Regions from separate parts of the Homo sapiens genome. Here region 2 is linked to region 1. The links come from fine-mapping of genetic effects on gene expression. Tissue or cell type: NK cells. Region 1 holds a variant in brackets; the other region holds the start of a gene. All regions are shown on one strand. Distances are from middle to middle.

Region 1 (2,836 bases):
CGTAAATGGAACGATACAGTGTGCAGCTTTTTGGCATTCACTGTCTTCATTTGGCATCGTTCTCTGGAGACCTGTTGGGGCTGGTGCCCGTCCGTGATTTGCTCCCTGTCCCTGCTGAGCAGTGTTCGTGTTACATAAGCTTTTGTAGAGCATTGAGCATGGGCCTGGGATCTGCCTTGTGTTGTGTGCTCTGTCTCAGGTTTTTCTGTCTTCATCTTTTCTCTCCTGTAGTCTAAGGTTGTGGGTGACAGAGAGAACGGCAGTGACAACCTCCCTTCCTCAGCGGGGAGTGGTGACAAGCCCCTGTCGGATCCCGCACCTTTCTAAGCCTGTGGTTGCTTCACCCGCTGCAGAGCACACGCAACCCAGCCTCAGCATCACAGCCGCAGCTCTGTTCAGCGGAGCAGCCAGCCAGGGCGGATGAGCAGAGCCGGCCCTGAGGACAGTCCTGCCCATCCACGCGGAGATGTGGCTGCCGCGTTTGCATGAATTTGAAGAACACAGGCTTGTACACAGATGTTTTACACTCACGTTTGTAGATGAAACAGATCACTGTGCTGTCCTTCCTAGGGGTGCAGGAAGTGGACAGGGCGGAGGGTTTGAAAGAATATTGAGCCAAAGCCCAGGCTCCCTTTGGGAATCATGTTAGCCCATCAGAATGTTGAAGGATTGAAGAGTTCTAAGCATAAAATAAGTGGCATTTTCTGACTTCTTCCTCCTCCTCCTTCCCTGACTCACAGAAGGAATGCAATCACCCAGCAAGTCCTACCTGTTACGCAATTTTTTATCTCAAAATGCCGAACGAGAAAACTGTCCATTTTCTGAGACCCCCAGAAAGGAAACTGACCCTCAGCAGCTGCCTGATTGTTACGCGAATCTAGCTTTAACGGAAGCAAATTCATTATTTTTTAAATGCAGTGGACTTTTCAAAAAGTTTAAATTAGGCAAAGCAGCTTTAGCCTCATAGAATATTATTTCTTTGGACTCAAGCTGAAATACAAGCCTTACATTGCCTTATGCTTTATTTCTTTCTAATTTTTATATGTATATAGATGAGGGTTCCTTAATGGTTGTGAGCATTGTGTGGAATTTTACACCTGGCCTGCGTGGCAGCCTCTTCCAGTTGAGGTGTTTTATGTCACGCACACTCCATCCCAGTGTACAAAACCTGCTTCTCTTCTCAACCGTGGCAGCTCCCGCTGGCTCCTATGCCCTGCCCTAAAGGGCTCTTGAGCCTCTGGGAATGGGAGGGGCCAAGAGAAGGAAAACCCTGTCTTTAGCACCCTTTAAAAGAACTGTGCCCCCCTTCTCAGTGCTGCCTTTGCATGGGCCTGGCCCGGCTCACATTCGTCAGTGACTCCAACCCTCCTGCTTGCTGTACTTGGGATGAAACGACCCCACAGGTCAGGTGGAGGGTGGGGCGTGGGCATCAGCCAGGATTGCCGTTACAGTCTTTTTCTCAGGAGCTACAAAGATCTCTTCCTGTTACTAAAT[A/G]GTCGCACCCCAGCAGCCTCTCTCGCACACCGGGGCCCTGCATGTCAGATGGCGTGGTCTGCAGGGGGAGCTCTGTGCCTTAGTGGCTCTTGGCAGGACACTGAGGGCCTGCCTGTGGTGTGCCCGGCTCTGCCACTCCCGGGAGGGGAAGGGCTGCTCAGCTCAAGGTGTCCTGTTCGGTAGAGCAAGTGTCCTCTGACAGCCGTGTCCCCGGACAGTTCAGACACCCTTGGGGATGGCACTCCACACACGACAGAGATGCAGGGGCCAGGGAAGCCCAGCGCTCGGTGCCCTTCGTCCAGGGTTAAAATCGGCCTGTGGGGTGTGGTGAGAAGGCAGGTTGTGCGGGTGTTGACCGATGTATCTTTTCCTTAAAGTTATTATAATAATGGGTAATTTGTCAATAAAGCATTCCTTTGGGGGAAAGTCCGCCTCGGCTTGTGTGATGTATCGTTCGGGACCATGATAAGAGTGGTAAATGAACTGGCACACGGTACCTGCCCTAATGAGTCCGCACCCTTGGGAGAGGCAGGCAGGGGACAGTGCTAAAGACAAAGGGCAGGTCCTCAATGCTGGGACAAGGGGAGCCAGCTGTGAGGGGAGAATGGTATATGGCCAACCTGTGAGGTCAGACCCAGCGTCTTGGGAAGAGGAGTTGAAACTGAGCCCCAGGAGGCGGAGGAGGAGCTCACCAGGCTCCAGGTTGGGCCGGGAGCTCCAGAGGCTTCGCCAGCTGCCCCTGCAAGCACTGAGCTGCTGCTGAGCACACCTGTAGTCCCCGCCATTCTGGAGGGTGAGGCAGATCACCTGAGCCCAGGAGTTCAGGACCAGCCTGGGCAGCATACCGGGATTCCATCTCAACTAAAAACAGTAGGCTGGGTGTGGTGGCTCATGTCTGTAAGCTCAGGACTTTGGAAGGCCAAGATGGGAGGATCACTTGAGCCTGGGAGTTTGACACCAGCTTGAGCATCGTAGCCAGGCCCTGACTCTACAAAAAAGTGAAATAATTAGCCGAGTGTGGTGGTTCACACCTGTAATCCCAGCTGCTCAGGAGGCTGAGGTAGGAGAATCATTTGAACCCGGGAGGTGGAGGTTGCAGTTAGCCGAGATCACGCCATTGCACTCCGGCCTGGGCGATAAAGCGAGACTCTGTCTCAAAAAAAAAAAAAAAAAAGAAAAAGAAAAAGGAAAAGACCCTTGAGGGGGAACCTCCACTCTGCCCCTGGTCTGGCGCTTTGCATGTATCCATTCCTAGTCTTTGGAGTTCCCACTGGAAAACTAGTGGGAGCACCAGTCTTCCTTTGGAGGTCAGAGGTAGCTGGGCTCACCCCAGATGTAAGAG
Region 2 (2,668 bases), 26 kb before region 1:
GAGCAAGAATCTCTGGAAAGAATGAAAGGCAGCAAATGGAGAAAACATTACTGAGAGCACGAGAGCAGGCTAAGGCCGTGGTGGTAAGGGACTCGGGCCTGTGCAAGAGTACCAGGAAGACACCTGTGGGAGGAGGTGGCCGGGTGAAGGAAGGGGCAGTGGGAGGAGCTTCCATGCCTAGGGACCAGTACCACCCCAGGCTGGAAGCCCAGAGTGGAGTCCTAGGACATCAGATCCTAAAGGGCTTGAATACCGTTTAAGGCTTTTCTTCCGGGAGCAAGTAGGAGCCAAAGAAGGGAAGTTGCGGGACTTGTTTTCGTGGGGCCAGTTGCCTGGTGGTTACGCGCCTCTCCTCTGAAGTCAGGCATCCTGTTCCAGAGTATCCTGGTTGCGCTTCAACTTGCGGAGTGACCTGGGGCAAGTGACTTTAACCTCAGCTTCCTCATCTGTGGAGTGGGGAGGGCGCAGCGCTGGTCGCCCTGAACAGGAAGTGAGACAACCTCGGGGTGCACACGCGCAGGCCCGAGCCGCAGGGTCCACGCCCGAGGCGAGGCGGCAGCGGCGCCTGCAGGGCGAGGGGACGAATCGCGATCTTTTTCAGAGTAACCCGCGTACAATAAAAAGTCCCCATGAAAAGGACAAACTAGCCAGGCGTGAGGGGCGGTGGCTCACGCCTGTAATCCCAGCACTTTAGGAGGCCGAGGCGGGTGGATCACCTAAGGTCAGGAGTTCTAGACCAGCCTGGCCAAGGTGGCGAAACCCCCGTCTCTACTACAAATACGAAAATTAGCCGGACGTGTTGGCGCGCGCCTGTAATTCCAGCTACTCGGGAGGCTGAGGCTGGAGAATCGCTTGAACCCGGAGGGCAGAGATTGGAGTGAGCTGAGATCGCGCCATGGCACTCCAGCCTGGGCAACAAGAGTGAAACTCCGTCTCAAAAACAAACAAAAAAGGACCAACTAAAAAAAGAATATAAATACAATAAATAACAGGACTTACGGGGGCAGGCTGACCCCTAAAGTAAGGGGTCGGGCTGGAAAGGATCTCAAGGGGTCAGAGTTTGAGCCGCCGAGGCGCGCGAGCCCCAGCACTCCTAGGCAGCTGCATCCGCCCCGGAAGATCCCCTGGGGCCCTGCGCTGGCTTTCCACAGCGCCATGTTGGACGGTCCTCCCACTTCCCACCTTCCCAGTCCTCCCGCTACTCTGACCGTTCTACCTGTGATTCTCGCTGGTGGAGTCAACCTGGAATGGATTCCCGCCGAACCACGCCTCCCTTTCCTGGTTCGCCCGCAGTTTCGGCCTATCAGGTTGAGTCGGGTAAACCAGGACGGGCCAAGCGGCACTCTCATTGGATATCACTGGTGGGGGCGGGAAGAAGGCGGAGCACGTGCCCGGGCGGAAGTAGCCGTCGCATCGCGGATTACGAAACGCCGCGGAGCTGAGGCAGTTCCGCTGGCTAGTGTGTACGCGGCGAGCTTCTCCCGGCGCCGCCCGCTCGGCTCCCATAGCGCCCGCGACAGCGGTCCGGACGCCGCCCGAACATGGACTCCGCCGGCCAAGGTACCTGCCGGGCCCGGCCCCTTCGCCGCAGATGGGCCCAGGCTGCCCGTTGTTCTCCGTCTCCCGGGGTCGCGTCTGCGACTCTCTGTCCTCTCGGTCTCGGTTCACCCACCCCGCGGCCCCTCTTCAGCTCCCGGGGCCACTGACCTCGAAGCTTATGATGGTCGTGGTGTGTTTTTTGCCCGCGGCCCAGACCGCTTCCTGGGCTCTCTCCAGCCGCCCTCCTGGTCTCCCCTGGGACCGTTCCGAGGTGTGGTTCCCTGGCGCCCGCCGTTGCTCCCGTAGTTTGGGTTCTGTCGCTCCCAGCAGGTCTCGCTTATGCCGCCCACCCCGTGCCCTGCTCTTGCTTGCTCTGCCACCCCCCGGTCCCTGCGCGGGGCCCTCGGGTTCACGCTGTCTGGCCCTGGACCCAGTCCGAGGTGTTGAGGGCGGCTCCCGAGCAGAGAAGGGGTCTTCGCGTTCAGCAGAGCTCCCCTTGGGCAGCAACTCTGCTCGGAGCTCAGCCTGCTTAGGGGTTGCCTCATGGAGAGGGGGTGGAGTGAGTCAGGGGCACACCCAGCATACCAGGCCTGTTTCCAGAACAGTCTCCCCAGAGCAGTATGAGATGGCCACTGAGGGGCGTGGAGCGAGCCCAGGAGATTAAAATCTTGAGAAGATGATAAAAGTCTGCCTTGCATTTTGGGGCTCTAGAGAGGGATGCTAAATTTCTTTCTTTCTTTCTTTCTTTCTTTATTTTTTTGAGACGGAGTCTTGCTCTGACGCCAGGCTGGAGTGCAGTGGCGCGATCTCAGCTCATTGCAACCTCGACCTCCCGGGTTCAAGCGATTCTGCTGCCTCAGCCTCCTGAGTAGCTGGGACTACAGGCACGCGCCACCAGGCCCAGCTAATTTTTGTATTTTTAGTAGAGGCAGGGTTTCACCATGTTGCCCAGGATGGTCTCGATCTCTTGACCTTGTGATCCGCCCGCCTCAGCCTCCCAAAGTGCTGGGATTACAGGCGTGAGCCACTGTGCCCGGCTACATATTAAGCTTTATAATTCCTAGGTGCTGCATTATTCTGGAGGGTGTTTTTTGTTTGTTTGTTTTTGTTTTTTTGAGATGGAGTCTCA

Which allele goes with the higher level. Alleles are on the strand shown, and positions count from the first base shown. SD is a standard deviation of normalised expression in the study named.
For the expression in NK cells of the gene that starts at base 1,446 in region 2, G is the low allele of the variant in region 1 and A is the other (moderate effect, 0.49 SD a copy in Gilchrist 2021).

The links. PIP is the estimated chance that this variant, and not a neighbour inherited with it, causes the effect.
Region 2: TPD52L2 starts here. The variant in region 1 is fine-mapped to the expression of TPD52L2 in NK cells (Gilchrist 2021, PIP 0.95). The same link has a PIP of 0.9 or more in CD4 T cells, monocytes, monocytes after LPS, monocytes after interferon gamma, monocytes after triphosphate RNA and neutrophils.

The regions. Positions count from the first base shown.
Region 1 is chr20:63,889,619-63,892,454 of GRCh38, forward strand. It overlaps TPD52L2 (TPD52 like 2), which reads left to right. Exons shown (of 7, transcript NM_003288.4): 7 at 232-1,920. The coding sequence ends at 327. Among named protein-coding and RNA genes, the nearest start is that of DNAJC5, 4.1 kb to the right of the region's middle. The variant A/G (reference allele first, on the strand shown) is at 1,495.
Region 2 is chr20:63,863,825-63,866,492 of GRCh38, forward strand. TPD52L2 (TPD52 like 2) reads left to right here and starts at 1,446. Exons shown (of 7, transcript NM_003288.4): 1 at 1,446-1,560. The coding sequence starts at 1,542. ABHD16B-AS1 (ABHD16B antisense RNA 1) reads right to left here and starts at 1,249. Exons shown (of 2, transcript NR_165314.1): 1 at 1,000-1,249; 2 at 1-446. RefSeq lists enhancers at 174-403, 497-1,696, 736-1,456, 2,178-2,668 and a silencer at 864-913.